Regions from separate parts of the Homo sapiens genome. Here region 2 is linked to region 1. The links come from fine-mapping of genetic effects on gene expression. Tissue or cell type: whole blood. Region 1 holds a variant in brackets; the other region holds the start of a gene. All regions are shown on one strand. Distances are from middle to middle.

Evidence for each region. PIP is the estimated chance that this variant, and not a neighbour inherited with it, causes the effect.
Region 2: it holds the start of CDH26, and the variant in region 1 is fine-mapped to the expression of CDH26 in whole blood (TOPMed, PIP above 0.99).

What each region holds. Positions count from the first base shown.
Region 1 is chr20:60,007,676-60,015,782 of GRCh38, forward strand. It overlaps CDH26 (cadherin 26), which reads left to right. Exons shown (of 18, transcript NM_177980.4): 18 at 4,852-6,854. The coding sequence ends at 5,055. Among named protein-coding and RNA genes, the nearest start is that of LINC02910, 44 kb to the right of the region's middle. The variant A/G (reference allele first, on the strand shown) is at 4,754.
Region 2 is chr20:59,953,979-59,962,085 of GRCh38, forward strand. It overlaps CDH26 (cadherin 26), which reads left to right and starts at 4,445. Exons shown (of 18, transcript NM_177980.4): 1 at 4,445-4,817. The coding sequence starts at 4,749. RefSeq lists an enhancer at 486-987.

The DNA of each region.
Region 1 (8,107 bases):
AGTGAGCAATGAGGGCATCCAGGGTTCACTTTCGTCTCATCTGCTGGTTTCTGCTGGTTTTTTTTTTTTAACTTCATCCCATCTGGACCAGATCCTGTTTTGGTCAGCAGGGTTGTGACCAGAAAACAAGACCTGCTGGCCTCCTACCTCAGAATGAAGGGTCTTTTCCTGCAAAATTGTGAAAGATGTAGTTTGACTGCGCTGAAGGGGTCTATTATGTGAGATTCTGATTTTGGGTACATCCTGAAAGGTCCATCAACACAGCCACTGCGTACTCCTGGGAAGATTAGAAAGCAGCTTGGGAGCTGGGCAAACCCATGGGCAGGTTTACATGGATAGGGCAGAGCCAGTCCACATGCTCGTGTCATGGAGGCTCTGCATGCCCCCTGCTTGGGGAAGGAGGTACCAAGAAGCTGCCCAGGCCATTCTGACTCTAAGCAGCTCCTCCTGTTGCAGGGCAGTGGGAACTCAGGCCTATGGAATGATAAGCACAAAGGAAGACATAAATGTAGACAGTCTCTGTCAGGCCAGACTTATTTTTTTGGCAAACACGTGTATAATACTCACTTTGTTGTAGACTCTGTTCTGAGGACTTGAAAGATGTTAACTCTTAGTCTGCACATCAGCCTATTGGGGGAGGTGCTGTCATATGCCTTTTTATAACATGTGGAAACCCAGGAACAAAGAAGTTGGGTAATGTGTCCAAGGTCACAGCCACAGAAAGCAGTAGATTTGGGGCTCAAATACAGGCAACTGGGCTCCAGGGTCTAGGCACTTAGGGGGCTCATTAAAAAGCAGCAATCCCCAGTACCAACTCTGTGGACCCTGCTGTAGTGGGTCTGGGGTGCGCATCTGAGCCTCTGACTTGAGGTCCTGGGATCCTGTTTTGTGAAACCCATTGGTGAGCCTGGACGTCTCCTGCTGTGGTTGTCAGAGTGGATGACAGACAGGGCTGTGAACACTGTGGCCTGAGGAAGTGAGCCCAGACTGTGTCTGGATGTAGAGTCACTGTCTGGGGTTTCCCCAATGTTGCTTCCTCTGGTTCCTGTCACAGTCCCCAGGTGGGAGCTCCAGCTCTGTGCCCCAGTGACAGCCCCAAAGGTGCTGTAGGCTTGGCCCCTTCTCACTCCCACTCCTTAGCCCTGCAGAATGGGTGCTGCCTGGCACCTGCTTCAAGACAACACAGACATCTTCTCCGGGCCTAGAAGCTTTGCCTAAAAGCAGGCAAGCCAGGCTCCTGCAGAAGGGGGCTGTGTACCCACAGACTCAGGGCTGCAGGGCCCTTCCCCAGGTCCTGACTGCTGGTGAGGAAGATGAAGGATGAGCTGCGGGGAAATTTCCATGTGTCTCTCCCGAGCCGACTGTAACCTCCCTGAGGGCCAGGCTGTGTCATTACTGGTGCATGACACAGGGGTCACTGAAGAAGCAATGAAAGAACCATTTTCACTATAACCCAATGTGGTAGATGAATCCAAAAATGGAGGCTCAGACAAGTTGCTCCAATGGTAAAGGCACGAGGGACAGAGCCAGAAATGGGGCACAGAGTGGCCGACTACAGACGGGCCCACCTGATCATTAAGCAGGGTCAGGGAAGTCTCCTCTCTGAGCCTTAATTTCTCATCTACAAAGGAGAGTTGGGGCAGCTCTGCTACACTCTCGGGTGAAGCTCTGTGCAGACCAGATCATGTCTCTACAGAAAACGTAGCATGTGGTGATCATCACGTAGTATCCAGCTTACCCATTTTCACATTTGCGCACACACACGTGAACGCATGCACATGCACACATACCGCTCATGCCAAGTGGACTGTGTGGACAGTATCGCAGGTCCTGCCTGGCTGAGCAGGAGAGGGACGTGTTCCAGCCGCGGGCCCCCCTCCTCCCTCTGCGGGGCAGGGAGGCAGCTTTATTCAATGGAAGCTCGAAGCTCTGCTTGGTGGTGTGAGAGGAGGGAACACCAGATTAGAGGGCCCTGTTCTTTCCTTGTGAGCCCTCTAACTTGGATGGTGGTGTATGATGAATTATTGATCTGATGAGGCCTCCAAAGTTGCTGAATCAGGGTGCAGACATCCACTGCTCTGCTGTCAGCCTGGGGGTTTTGAAGTTGAATCCACCCAGCACAGCCCCCACTGCAGATTCTGTTTTGCTCTGCACACACCAGGTCTGTCGCTAATTATCTATTCAGCTTCACTGCAAGGACGTGAACCGACTCCTAACACGTAGGCCAGAGCTTGTGTATCTGCTGGTTTTGCCGTAAAAACTTTCTTTCCTCCCCCTGCCCCCAGCTCCCCCATGCCATATGGTCAGACAGTGACCACAGTCCCTGAGTAAGCAGACCCAGTCAATGGGCCAGATGTGCAGGTGAGCATTCCCGCGCTTCTCGTGGGCACCAAGCCTGACATAGCAGTAGACTGGGGCGGGGAGACAGCATTTCCCACTAAACAAGGGCCCAGGCAGGGCTCCTGAGAACCAGAGGAAGCTGGAGACAGCTTGTTGCAGTCACTGGGTGGGGCGGGGCGGGGGGCATAGTTAAGAGCTTGGAAGCCCAGGGGTCCCATCAGAATGGGGACACGCATGGGGTCCCTGGGGCCCCAGAGCTGCCCTTTCCAGGCCCTCCCCACCTCCCACCTTGGGCTTGAGCCCCAGGATTCTGACTGTTTTCATGCCCTACATGAGCTCACCCTCTCAGAATTACTATCAGCAGTGACGGATTAGACAGGCTCCCACTAAACCCATTCCTGCCAAGGTCTGTAGAACTGGCGCTGGGTTCAGATAGCACCCTCTAGAGGTATTAGAAGGTAAATAGGCTAAAGTCCCTCTCCCCTCCCCTCCCCTCCACTCCCCTATTTATTGAATCACTCAGGCCAGAAAAGTCTTCACAGAGAGATGACTTGGGTCCTGAATGCTGAGCTGGAGTTTGCTGGGTTGGAGATTGGCAGAGGAGGGCTGTCTAGGATTCTAGGCAGACAGGAATGAGCAGATATGAAGCCTAGGAAATGTTTCTGGGGTTTGTGCAGAGGGTGGACCTAAGGCAGGAGAGGTTGGGGAGAGGAGGAGATGGTGAGAAGAGGGCTGTTTGGAGGGAGAAAGCCATGGCAACCCCAGAGCAGGGTGGCTTAATGCGCAGAGCAGGCACCTCTGGCTCACGTCACACATCAGGGTGGGTGTCGAGCCGGAGCCTGCCCAGGGTCCTCCCACTCTGTGGCTCTGCCACCACTCAGAACTGGAAATGGGGCTGGAGGACAGAGAAAGAACAGAGGCTCTTGGGGAGGCTTTCATGGCCAGGTACGTGTCCCTGACATCCCTATTTCATCAGTCACGTAGCCACATCTAGCAGAGAGGCAGGAAATGTGATCTTGCCGGGTGACCAGAAGAACAAGAAATGAGTTTAGTGAACTTGCCACTCTCGCCCCAATGAGTGGAGATAGGGACCTATCCTCAGGCATTGGCCATGGGGCTGGAGGAGAGGGGACAGAACTAGAAATACTGCCGAGCATTTGAGAGGATGGGGCAGGGGAGAGTTGGTGATGACTCTAGGTTTCAAGGTTGAGCAGCTGGGCTGTAGGGGATGTCCTGACTTAAGTCAGGCTAGAGTTTCATGAACTTTGGTCATTCTGTCACTACTGTCACGCTTGTGTTTAACCCACTCACTATGATGTATTTAATGCATTTCTGTAAATCAGCTCACATGTTAATTAGCTTTTGGCTTTACAATCAGCTAGTGTGAAATCATGGATTTGGCGTGCTTGTTATTGTGTTTTGAAATATACGATAAAATGGCCATTCACTCAAATAAATATGTGTTCTGATACCATCGAAATCATCTAATGATGCAGGGGTCAGTGAACTTCCTATAAAGGGCCAGATAGTAAATCCTGTAGGATTTGAAGGCCAGTTCCCACAGCTCAGCCCTGCCATTGTTCCGTGAAAGCAGCCACAGATGATACACAAATAAACGGTCTTGGCCGTGCTCCAGTAGAACTTAATTTACAACAACAGGTGGTGTGCTGGATTATCCCCTGGCTTGTAGCCGGCTAGCCCCTGTAACAGGGGGTGCGCACTGCACTTGGCGAGCATTGAGGGAGGGACGTGGGAGGAGGAGATGTAGGTTGTGGGCAAAACCACAGTGGTTTCCAGGATGTTGAGTCTGAGGTCTCTGTGGATGTCCTTGTGGAGCTGTCTGGTTGGAATTCTGGCTCTGGATGTGACTGTAGGGAGTGTCACAGAGAGAGATGGTGACGGGGACATCACCATTGGTTAGGGATGGATGAAGCCATGGCCTGAGCATGAATGGGGAGACTGGAGGGCAGTGGTTTGAGGAGCCACATGGGTGAGAAAGGGGTGGCAGGAAGTGGTGGCCGCCCTTTCTTGCAGGGAGGCTGTGAAGTATGAGCAGATTGAAGGATAGACCTGAGCACATTTGTGGGTCGGGAGAAAGGAGCCCACAGCAAGAGGCCAGGTAAAGATGAAGAGAGAGGGGACAGTTGTCCAAACGAGGGCCGGGGGGTCATGGAAGGGGAGGTGTCCAGGGCACAGGACAGGGAAGGGCGAGCCTCAAGGAATGAATCTGCAAGAGGGTGGGAGCAGGTGGGAGGTCCTCCTGGGGGCTCCTGTCATACTCCTGGGGCGGCCACCACTGTGTCACAGTTCCCTCTCAGACTGTAAGGTGGGATGTCTCCCCTCAGCATGGCTGCCACTTCTGGAACTGTACGAACTCCTGTGTCAGCTGAGGACACGGGGCCTGAGTGCTGTT[A/G]CTACTGCATTGATGTGTTCCTCGAATCAAACCTAGAGAAATGAGCTGGGTATGGAAGCACATGGCATTTACCTTCTCTTTCCCCCACTTTTCCCCAGAAACTCCATGTTGCCAATGTGCTGGAAGATGACCCCGGCTACCTACCTCACGTCTACAGCGAGGAAGGGGAGTGTGGAGGGGCCCCATCCCTCAGCTCTCTGGCCAGCTTGGAACAGGAGTTGCAACCTGATTTGCTGGACTCTTTGGGTTCAAAAGCGACTCCGTTTGAGGAAATATATTCAGAGTCAGGTGTTCCTTCCTAAAAAAAAAAGTCTATTTTGGAGAATTGAAATAATTCATGGAAGGGAATCACTATTCAGGGATTTTTCCCCTTTGCTCTTCTTTTCCCTCCTTAAAAGAAAAATTACCTTCTAGTCCTAGGATGAGGACACACTATTAGTTTGAATTAAATGCTTTGATATTCTCAGATCAGCCATCTTGAACCAAAGCAAAACCACAAGTTACACTTTCTTAAAATTTGATTTGTCATATTTTCTAGAGAAACTTGAATTTAATTGTGTTATTCTTAGCTTCCACTGGCAGCCTAGCTTTGAGGGTAAATGAAAATATAACCCATAGATTACCCAGCCACTTGGGAACAGCAGGTAATACTGAAGAAAAATAAAAATAGATTTTGAAAACGTTACTTACATTTCTATGATTATGATTCTGCTTCCATTTAAGGGAAAACTTAGGTAAATAGAGAAATTTTTTCTATAACATTTGTAGTCAGTATTTGAAGTGATTTTTTAAAAAATAAGTATTGGTCCCTGTTCACTTTTTGATTAGATAAATAGATAAAATATGTTATCTTGAGAAAAATGATTATGCTGAAAGCTTTATAAACAGTATACTCTTTAAAAAATGAAGAGCTGACATAATTTAACTTGTATGTATTATGTAAGTAAAAGAGTTAGGAGCCTTTGAATGAGTAAGTTCTGATTAGATTTTATCTTTAAACAAAACCACAAAATTTAATTGGTTTTTACTTGTCCACTTACTGCTAGTGTCAGTTTCAGGGGAAGAAATGGTTTCTTTTAAAAATCTTAATAGGGGACATATGCCCTAAAAATAGTCAGTTTTCTAGTCTGAGTAATAGATAAGAGACTGACTAAGCAAAGTTTAAAATGCTATTTGGACACTTTAATGCACATATTGGATATCTAAAAGTCTACAGCCATATAAAAATTTTATATAATTAATGAGCAAATGCCGTCTCTCATGCCCTAAAATAAATCAGTAGAAACATGTTTGCTGGTGAATCAGTGAAGCATTATGTTAAACAGTGAGTTACAGCTCAGAGTTAAAACTTTCTCCTTCTTTTTGAAGAAGCTGTGCAAATACTTCTTTTTAAGGAGATCTGGCCTTTTCCTACCTGGTTACCTCAGTCTTCCTCTGCTTTGGGAAGCTGAAAAAGAAGAAAAATCACATTTAAAGCACTGGAATGTCTGAATGGGACGCTTGAATGTGTAGAACAGCTGTACTGATCCTAGCATGACTCAGAGGACAGTCTAGGGCATTTTCTGGGTAATTCAGGATAAAAGTATTTTTTTTTTTAAGAAAAATACATGTTTTTGGACAACAAAACAAAGTAAACATTAGTTTATTCGATTGCCTCCTTATACTTGCCTCTTTCATTCTGTCCCCTGTAGATTTTTAAAAAATTATCTCATTTTAAAACTTTATTATTTCATTTTAAATAATTGACATATAATAATTGTACATATTTAGGGGGTACATAGTCATGTTTCAATACATTTACAGTGATCAGATCAGGGTGGTTAACGTAATCATTGGCTCAAACATTTTTCATTTCTTTGTATTGGTACGGAGCATTCAATATCCATCCCCCTTCTAGCTATCTAAAACTATGTATTATTGTTAACTATAGGCAACATATAATGGTATAGAGTGCTAGAACGTATTCCTCCTAGGAATAATTTGCTGTAATTTTGTATCCTTTAATAAATCTCTCCCTATCCCTCTTTCCCCCCACCCTTCCCAGCTGCTGTGTCCTCTGTTCTACCTTCTACTTCCGAGATAAACTTGGTTTTAGCTTCCACATATGTGTGAGGACATGTGATTTTCAACTTTCTGCAGCTGGCTTATTTCTCTTAACATAATGTCCTCCAGCTTCATCCATGTTGCCATAAATGACAGAATTTTTTTATTTTAGTGGCTGAATAATATTTCATTGTGTATATATACCATGCTTTCTTCATGCATTCATCTGCCTTTGGACAGCTAGGTTGATTCCACATCTTGGCTATTGTGAATAGTGGTGTAATAAACATGAGGTGCAGATGTCTCTTCAAAATACAGATTTCCTTTCCTCTGGACAAATGCCCAGTAGTAGGATTTTTGAATTATATTGTAGTTCTATTTGTAGAGTTTTTGAGGAACCTCCATACTCTTCTCCAAAGTGCCTGTACTAATTTACATTCCTACCAACAGCGTATGGGTTCCCTTTACTCAGCAACCTCACCAGCATTTGCTTTCTTTTCTTTATTTAATTTAATTAAAAATTTTGTTTGAGACAAAGTCTCACTTTATTGCCCAGGCTGGAGTGCAGTAGTGCAATCTCAGCTCACTGCAACCTCTCCACTTCCTGGGTTGAAGCAATTCTCCTGTCTCAGCCTCCCAAGTAGCTGGGACTTCAGGCATGAGCCACCACGCCCAGTTAATTTTTTGTATTTTTAGTAGAGATGGGGTTTTGCCATGTTGGCCAGGCTGGTCTCTATCTACTGACCTCAGGTGATCCGCCCACCTCAGCCTACCAAAGTGCTGGGATTAAAGGTGTGAGCCACTGCATCTGGCCCAGCATTGGCTATTTTTGACTCTTTGATAGTAGCTATCCTAACTGGGATGAGATAATACCTCATTGTGGGTTTGATGTGCCTTTTCCTGACCATTCATGATGTTAAGCAGTTTTTCATATATTTTTTGGCCATTTTATGTCTTTTGAGAAACATCTGTTCAGATCATTTACCCATTTTAAAATTGGATTCTTTTTATTTTGCTGTTGAGATATTTGAGCTCCTCGTGTATTCCAGATAATAACCCCTTATTGGATAAATAGTTTGCAGATATTTTCTCCCATTTTGTACGTTAACTTTTCACTCTGTAGTTTCCTTTGCTGTGCAGAAAATTTTTCGTTTGATATAATCCTATTTGATTATTTTTGCTTTTGTTGTCTATGCTTTCGAGGTCTTACTCATAAGTTTTTTTACAAGACCAATTTCCTGAAGCATTTTCCCTAGATTTTCTTCCAATAGTCTTATAGTTTTGGGTCTCACATTTAGGTCTTTGATCCAC
Region 2 (8,107 bases), 54 kb before region 1:
TATAGAGAGAGAGAGAGAGAGAGAGAGAGAGAGAGAGAGAGAGAGAGAGAGAGAGAGAGAGAAAGAGACAGAGTTTCACTCTTGTTGCCCAGGATGGAGTGCGATGGCTTGATTTCGGCTCACTGCAACCTCCACCTCAGCGATTCTCCTGCCTCAGCCTCCCAAGTAGCTGGCCATGTGTCACCACACCTGGCTAATTTTTTTGTATTTTTAGTAGAGACAGGGGTTCACCATGTTGGCCAGGCTGGTCTCAAACTCCTGACCTCAGGTGATCCACCTGCCTCAGCCTCCCAAAGTGCTGGGATTATAGACATGAGCCACTGCGCCCAGCCCTGTTTTATATTATGTTAATAGCTGCTATGTCTATGGCAGAGTTGAACCTACTTCACCACTACTGGAAGCAGAACTCTTCCCTGATTATTTTAAAAACCCTTCTCAAGAGTGTTCTGAGAAATTAAACTTTTCTTGTGACTATGAAGAAACGGGAATTGAATTCAGAAGTATTGGCTGGAAAATTATTTTTGTGTTAGTGAATATAGAAAGGTCTTGACTCAGGGGACATATAAGCATGAGCCATTTTATTCTTCCTTAATCTGAGCCTTCAACCAAACCATTTCAATCCCTCAGTTACAACTGGGGCTCATCATTACCCAGTCACGTCAGTCAGTAAAACCAGCCCAGCTTAAAACTTCGATGTCAGCCTTGATGGAAATCTAATCTCTTCCATCCACCCTGGGTGGGCTGGACTCCCAGGTGGGTGTGTGGGCAGGGGAGGCTTGGGCAGCCCCTCCTCACCTTCCAACCCAGCACTGAGATCCTAAGGCATGGTGGTGCTTTGCTGTTGGGACACCTCTGCTCCCTCCCTCTTCCAGGCTCTGCCTCCCCTAGCGTTGGTGACAGAAAGAGAGACTAAGGGAAAGCCTAAGGCCTGTCCTCTGTAACAGGCCACTCTCCCAGCCTTTCACTGCGGCTGGCTCACCTCTGCAGAGGAGGCATCGAATGCCAGCCTTCTCACCTCCCCAGCCAGGAAAGAAGGCTTGAGCCTAGCGCTTTACTTCTCTGGTGTTTACTTGATCCATATGGAAAATGCCAAAGGTAGGCAGAGTCAGGTGCATTTGTCATCTTCCCTCAGTCCCACTGTCCACCTAAGTTCCCCTCCTTTCAGCTGGGCATGAGGCCTGGCCAGCCAGACCACTGTCCACGCAGAAATCCAAGCCGGGTGGGGATGCCTCATGATGCAATCATCATTACTAAAAAAAGAACAGTGAGAACTGGAGGTGGCTGGGGGCACTCCTCAAAAACATGAGAAGGTTGACCCTGGGTAGGTAATTGTAGCTCATACCTCCCTTGCAATCAAGTAACTTTTATCTCATGAGCAATCTCATTTCTTCACTTGTCAGCTTACAGGGAGCTGGGAGCTGCCACCATGTGGCTATAAAGTATTACTGTACTTCCAAGGACACAGAAAGGAGCGCTAGACTATTGTCACTATGATCACATGCTCAGAATAGAAAGGGAGTGGGGACATCTTCAAGCTCAGGCTCACCCAAGATGTGCAGCAGGTGATGCCCAGAATCACCAGCTGAGTTCCAGGCCCCGTGGCCTACCCAAGTAGGGTTGCCGTGTGGGGAACTGGCATTCTGCTTAGTTATTTTAAACGCTTGAGAATGTTGAAAACTTGTTTGTTTCTAATATATTAAAATACCAGTTCCTATGGTGTTTTTTGTTTTGTTTTGTTTTGAGATGGAGTTTCACTCTTGTTGCCTAAGGCTGGAGTGCAATGATGTGATCTCAGCTCACTGCAACCTCCGCCTCCCGGGTTCAAGGGATTCCCCTGCCTCAGCCTCCGGAGTAGTTGGGATTACAGGTGTGTGCCACCATGCCCGGCTAATTTTAAAATACCAATTTCTTTTAAACTTAAAACGAATGTGAAAGTGGAATCCTTCACTGTTGTCCCCCAGCTCCGCCCAGACTAGAACATTGTGAGGCTAATGCCTTTCTAGCAACAATATTTTAGTCCCCAGCGCTATTCTAGCAGCAGGGAGTGCTCAACTGACGTGGTTTTTTCACATATATTTAACATGGTTTAGCTCACCTGACTTATATATTCTAAATTAGTGATTCTAACTTAATCAGTTTTTTAAAAATAGGCTATCATTATAGAAATATCCACTTTGAAAATAGGCACAAGGTATTCAGTTTCTCTTTATGCACAGGAAATATCTATAGACTTTAAAGTTGTATTTATTATTCTTTTCAATAATAAGCTATTAATTTCAATAAAAATAAACTATTCAAATTAAAATATTCAGCAGCATCTCAGAGCTATGAATGTTCAGTTAAGCAAAGAAAGTTTTTTTTTTTTAATTGGGAGATTTTTATTTTATATTTTATTTTTGATGAGTTCTTTTTTATTTTTATTTTTTAATTTTATTTTTCCATAAGTTATTGGGGTACAGGTGGCATATTGGTTACATGAGTAAGTTTTTCAGTGGAGATTTGTGAGATCCTGGTGCACCCATCACCCAAGCAGTATACACTGCACCATATTTGTTGTCTTTTATCCCTCACCCTCTTCCCACTCTTCCCCCCAATTCCCCAAAGTCCATTGTATGATTCTTATGCCTTTGTGTCCTCATAGCTTAGCTCCCACAAATCAGTGAGAATATACAATGTTTGATTTTCCATTCCTGAGTTACTTCATTTAGAATAATAGTCTCCAATCTCATCCAGGTCACTGCAAATGCTGTTAATTCATTCCTTTTTATGGCTGAGTAGTATTCCATCATATATATCTGTATATACACATATATATACATATATATGTGTATATATATGTGTATGTATATATATACATATATGTGTGTATATATGTGTATGTATATATATACATATATGTGTGTATATATGTATGTATATATGTGTATATATGTACATACACATATATACACATATATGTGTATATATACATATATGCGTGTATATATGTACATACACATATATACACACATATATGTGTATATATGTACATACACATATATACACGCATATATGTGTATATATACATATAGATACGCATATACACATTTTCTTTATCCACTAGTTGATTGATGGGCATTTGGGTTGGTTCCACGATTTTGCAATTGTGAATTTTGCTGCTATAAACGTGCATGTGCAAGTATCTTTTTCGAATAATGACTTCTTTTCCTCTGGGAAGATACCCAGTAGTGGGATTGCTGGATCAAATGGTAGTTCTACTTTTGTTCTTTAAGGAATCTCCACACTGTTTTCCATAGCAGCTGTACTATGTTATATTCCCCCCAGCAGTGTAGAAGTGTTCCCTGATTGTCACATCCACACCAACGTCTACTGTTTTTTGATTTTTTGATTATGGTCATTCTTGCAGGAGTAAGGTGGTATCGCACTGCGGTTTTGATTTGCGTTTTGCTGATCATTGGTGATGTTGAGCATTTTTTCATATGCTTGTTGACCATTTGTATATCTTCTTTTGAGAATTGTCTATTCATGTCCTTATCCCACTTTTTGATGGGATTGTTTTTTTCTTACTGATTTGTTGGAGTTCATTGTGGATTCTGGATATTAATCCTTTGTCAGATGTATAGATTGTGAAGATTTTCTCCCACTCTGTGGGTTGTCTGTTTACTCTGCTGACTGTTCCTTTTGCAGTGCAAAAGCTCTTTAGTTTAATTAGGTCCCAGCTATTTATCTTTGATTTTATTGCATTTGCTTTTTGGTTCTTGGTCATGAAATCCTTGCCTAAGCCAATATCTAGAACAAGCAAAGAAAGTTTACCTTTTATTTTATCTGTTTACTACTTTAAACAAGGTAATGTGATAAAAAGGTCATGTTAAGGTAATCAGGGTTAATGTATCACAGATTGTGTTTTAAAACTTGCTTACTGCAACCTTAAGTATTGGTATAATATAATCTCAAATTGTCTCTTTCAGAATTCTCATGCAAAGACTCCCGGGTTGCCACAGAGATCCCTGTCCATAGGGAGGCTCTTTCCCATCTCTCCTCCCTCCCACTTTAATTCCAAACTCAAAAAGGCAGATTAATCTAAGCTTAAAAAAGGTTTTAGTAGAAATAATTTGAAAACCCCAGAGCCCTGGGATATTGTTGGAATAACGATTTTTAGTGCTTTGGAAAGTAAAAGTTGATTTTTCTTTTCTTTCATTCTTCCCCATCCCTTCCCCCTTAATAAAGTTATCATTCTTGTCATTTTCTAGTTTTTTTTGTTTGGTTCAAGAGGATAAGATTATAGAAAATAGTCACTAACATATCCTGCTATAGAAAGAGATGATTGGACCTTCTATTTGGAAACCAGAACAAACAAGGAAACAAAGAAACAAATAATTCTGCTTTCCGATAGGTGCTGGTTTTACTTCCGCTGGCTGAGCTGTTGTTCCTGAGGTCAGACCCCAGCCAGTCTTTTGTGTACGTGCAGGACCATGGTGGCTTTAGTTTCTACCCCACCCTTCCTAGGAACTCTACTTGTGGCAAACGTATGTTCAAGCTTACAAGTCAGCCCACCCCACTCTGATAAATGCAAGAAAAGCTGAAAAGGGAGGAGCAAGATGGGATGAAAGCATCTGGGCCAAAGTGACCTGAAAACCTTTAGAGAAGAAGCTGCTGGCTGAGAAGGAGGTGTGTGGCTCCGGTGAGACCACCAGCTTGGAGGACTGGTCATCAGCTGCACGTTCTGGGTCTGTCTTGGGTATTCCCATATGGCCATGAGATCCGGGAGGCACCCCTCGCTGCTGCTGCTTCTAGTGCTGCTGCTGTGGCTGCTGCAGGTAAGCTGAGCCTGCAGCCTAGTGCTCAGGTGCAGGGAACTGAAAGCAAAGCACAAGCTGGCCCTGCCCCTTCTAGGCTAAGGGAGGGGAGAGGGACTGAGTGTGACCTGCTGGGACCCAGGGCTGGCTGTCTTGAGAATGGCTTAGGTAGCAGGGGCTCTGGATTTATATAAAGGGAAGTTAAGGGTCCCAGTCTGTTTGGGGCAACAGTGGGAGCAGGCTAAGGGACCTGTTTAAAACTAATTTATATAGTTCACACTATTTTTAGTGAGATTACATCAACACACACGTGTTTTCTTTCTTTGTTTCTTTCTCCTTTTGTTGAGACAGGGTCTGGCTTCATCATCCAGGCTGGAGTGCAGTGGCATGATCAAGGCTCACTGCAGCTTTAACCTCCCAGGCTCAGGTGATCCTTCCACCTCAGCCTCAAGAGTAGCTGGGACTACAGTAACTTACCACCACGCTGGCTAATTTCTGTATTTTTTATAGAGATGGATTTTCACCATGTTGCCCAGGCTGGTCTCGAACTCCTAAGCTCAAGTGATTTATTCGCCTTGCCCTTCCGAAGTGTTGGGTTTACAGGCATGAGCCACCTCACCCAGCCAACACACACAATTTTTTTTTTTTTTTGAGACAGGGTCTCGTCATCCAGGCTACAGTGCGTGGTGACATCTCAGTGCACCGCAACCTCCTCCTACTGGGTTCAAGCAACCTCCTGGCTCAGCCTCCCGAGTACTGGGACTACAGGTGCACGCCACCATGCCCGGCTAGTTTTTGTATTTTTATTAGAGACAGGGTTTCACCATGTTGGCCAGGCTGGTCTCAAACTCCTGACCTCAAGTGATCTGCCTGCCTCAGCCTCCCAAAGTGTTAGGATGACAGGCTTGAGACACTGCGCCCTGCCAAGTTTTATAATGATACTTCTGTTCACACTTTACATAAGATTGAGGAAATCTCAGTTGTCTGGATCCAAGGCAATTTGAGCAAACCCATGGGGATGGAATGGCTAAATCCATTGCCCCCAACTGCCACTGTTTAAATGGGAATACAAACTAGTGGAGTCAGGATTCGAAACACATGGGCTTGCTCTGTTTGTACTTAGAGTGGACAGAGGTAATGTTGCATGCGCTTGTTGGTTATGATCTGCTTCGTTGGCTTTCTGTAGGTAGGGAGAGGGAATCATTTCTTCCTTTGAATACCAGCTGAGGGTGGGAAGCAGCCCAGTGGCTGGTAACTGTGAGCTCTGGACTGGGCTGCTTGGCGTCCTGACCTAGGCTCCTTCACAGCCCGCTGGGGACCTAGGCCAGCTTAACTTTGTTCCTTACCTTGGATCAAGTTGAACTTACCTAGGGAGCTTCAAGGGATCTCAGTGCCTGGGTTTTGCCCCCAAAGGTTCAGGTTGAGCTGACCTGGGAGTGCACTGGGTGTCAGTGCACTGGTTTTAACATAACCTTGTTAAGCCTATTTTTCTTCACCTGAAAATGGAGCTAGTAACTGAATTTATCTGAGCCAGTGGTTGTACCAGTGAATGAGGAAATGCGTAAAAGCCCTTGGTACTGCGAAAGTTGTCAGAATCAGAATGGAGTTCCTTATGTTAAAACACACACACACACACACACACACACAGGCACAAAGCCTGATATATAGACACAAAGAAGGTTATGAAAAGGGGGTTCTCACATTTGTAGGCTTGATAACTAAAACTATCACAAAAGCTCTGCAAAAATAACAACTTTGCACAAAGGCCGTTAAAACCTTACACAAAAAATACTTTTTCGAAGAAATCTTCCCAGCAACTTTTTGTGCAAACTCAGACCAGTGTCACCCTTCTTATTGATCTTTGTAGCCAAAGATAATTATTTCAAAACAATGATATAATCCTTCTCATTTTTTCCTTTGAAAACCTTTATCTCCCTTTACCTCCCTGACTCTGCACATCGTTTACCATGGCACACATATTCCCATGGATATGTCCTTGCCCAGACAAACGTCATCTTCTCTTAGAGAGCCTCTGTCTACTATTAGGTTCACAGTTCAGTAACGACCCAGCCGTTTTTCTAATCACAGTGAAAATGGTTGGCAATATTCATTCAGAGCTCATGCTAAAACTATTTACTGGATACCTGCTTTGGGCCAGGCACTGGGAATACACCAATAAACATAATAGGGGGAAAACCCTGTCTGAAAGTGGATAACTTGTTTGGTACCAGTTGCTTGAGGTTTGGAGAATTTTCTTGGTCACATTTTGCCATATCAAGAGTTACGAGTTTCCTTAGTCAGACAGCACATTAATTTGATCTCCAATACTTCACAGAAGTCCTTTTTAGTAGCCCATGTTTGCATGGATTTGAATATAGTCCAGATCAAATCCTGTCCCCATCCTTCCCTCACTCCTGCTCCTACCCACAATGAGTCTGATCAGGAAACAGACCTGAATTCTCTTCCCTCTGGCGTATTAGTGCAGTGCCAAAGCAAATTAATTGACTTCTGAGGGTGGTTGGGTGGGGGTGGGCAGTGGGAATGGGTCTGTGGATTGTACTTCAGTGATTGATGACAGCAGCTTTATGTAGATTCCAGGGAATCAAGACAGATGAAGAGAACATGATTCAATAGATGTAAGAAGTTTTTAGCAATCAGAATGCTGGACCTTTAACTCTTAAAGAGCTTTACACCTGGCAGGTGCTCAATAATTGTCAAATTGGCTATGAGTAACATTCCGTTCCATTCCTTTACATCCCCGCCCCCTGAATTGGCTTATTGCCATCTGTGACATCTATGACAGATACCTACTTCCCCCTGTTCAGATCTCCATATTTACAAGCTGATACCATTTCTGCTGGAGAGCTATTGTGTCCACAATAGTTTTCCTCTGAAATCCCCACACCCTTTCTTTGTCATTTGGCCATGAAGCCAAATCACCAAGTCAGGATTCTGTTCTGCAGGTTTATGTCTTTGTTCCAGGTTCAGTGACAAGTAATGACAAGCCAAGGAAGAGGAGTTTTCTCCCCTTTTGTCATTTCCAGGCCTCTGAGCTCATATGTCCTCACCTTGGGGCTGTGGCAGGCTTCAAAGACCAGAGAAGAGGGAAGTTTTAAGAGAATGAAACTGTACAATGAGAAAAGCCACTTATGATTTTTTGTTGTTGGTGGTGGTGGCGTTGTTACCAATCTGGGAAATTCTGAATTGAGTTACATTTTAATAAATTGTTAGCATTTATGCTCTGACTGAATTACTCTTTCAGCCCTTCATTTAAGACCAACAGAGTGATGGGTTGCAGAAGGTGGGGATAG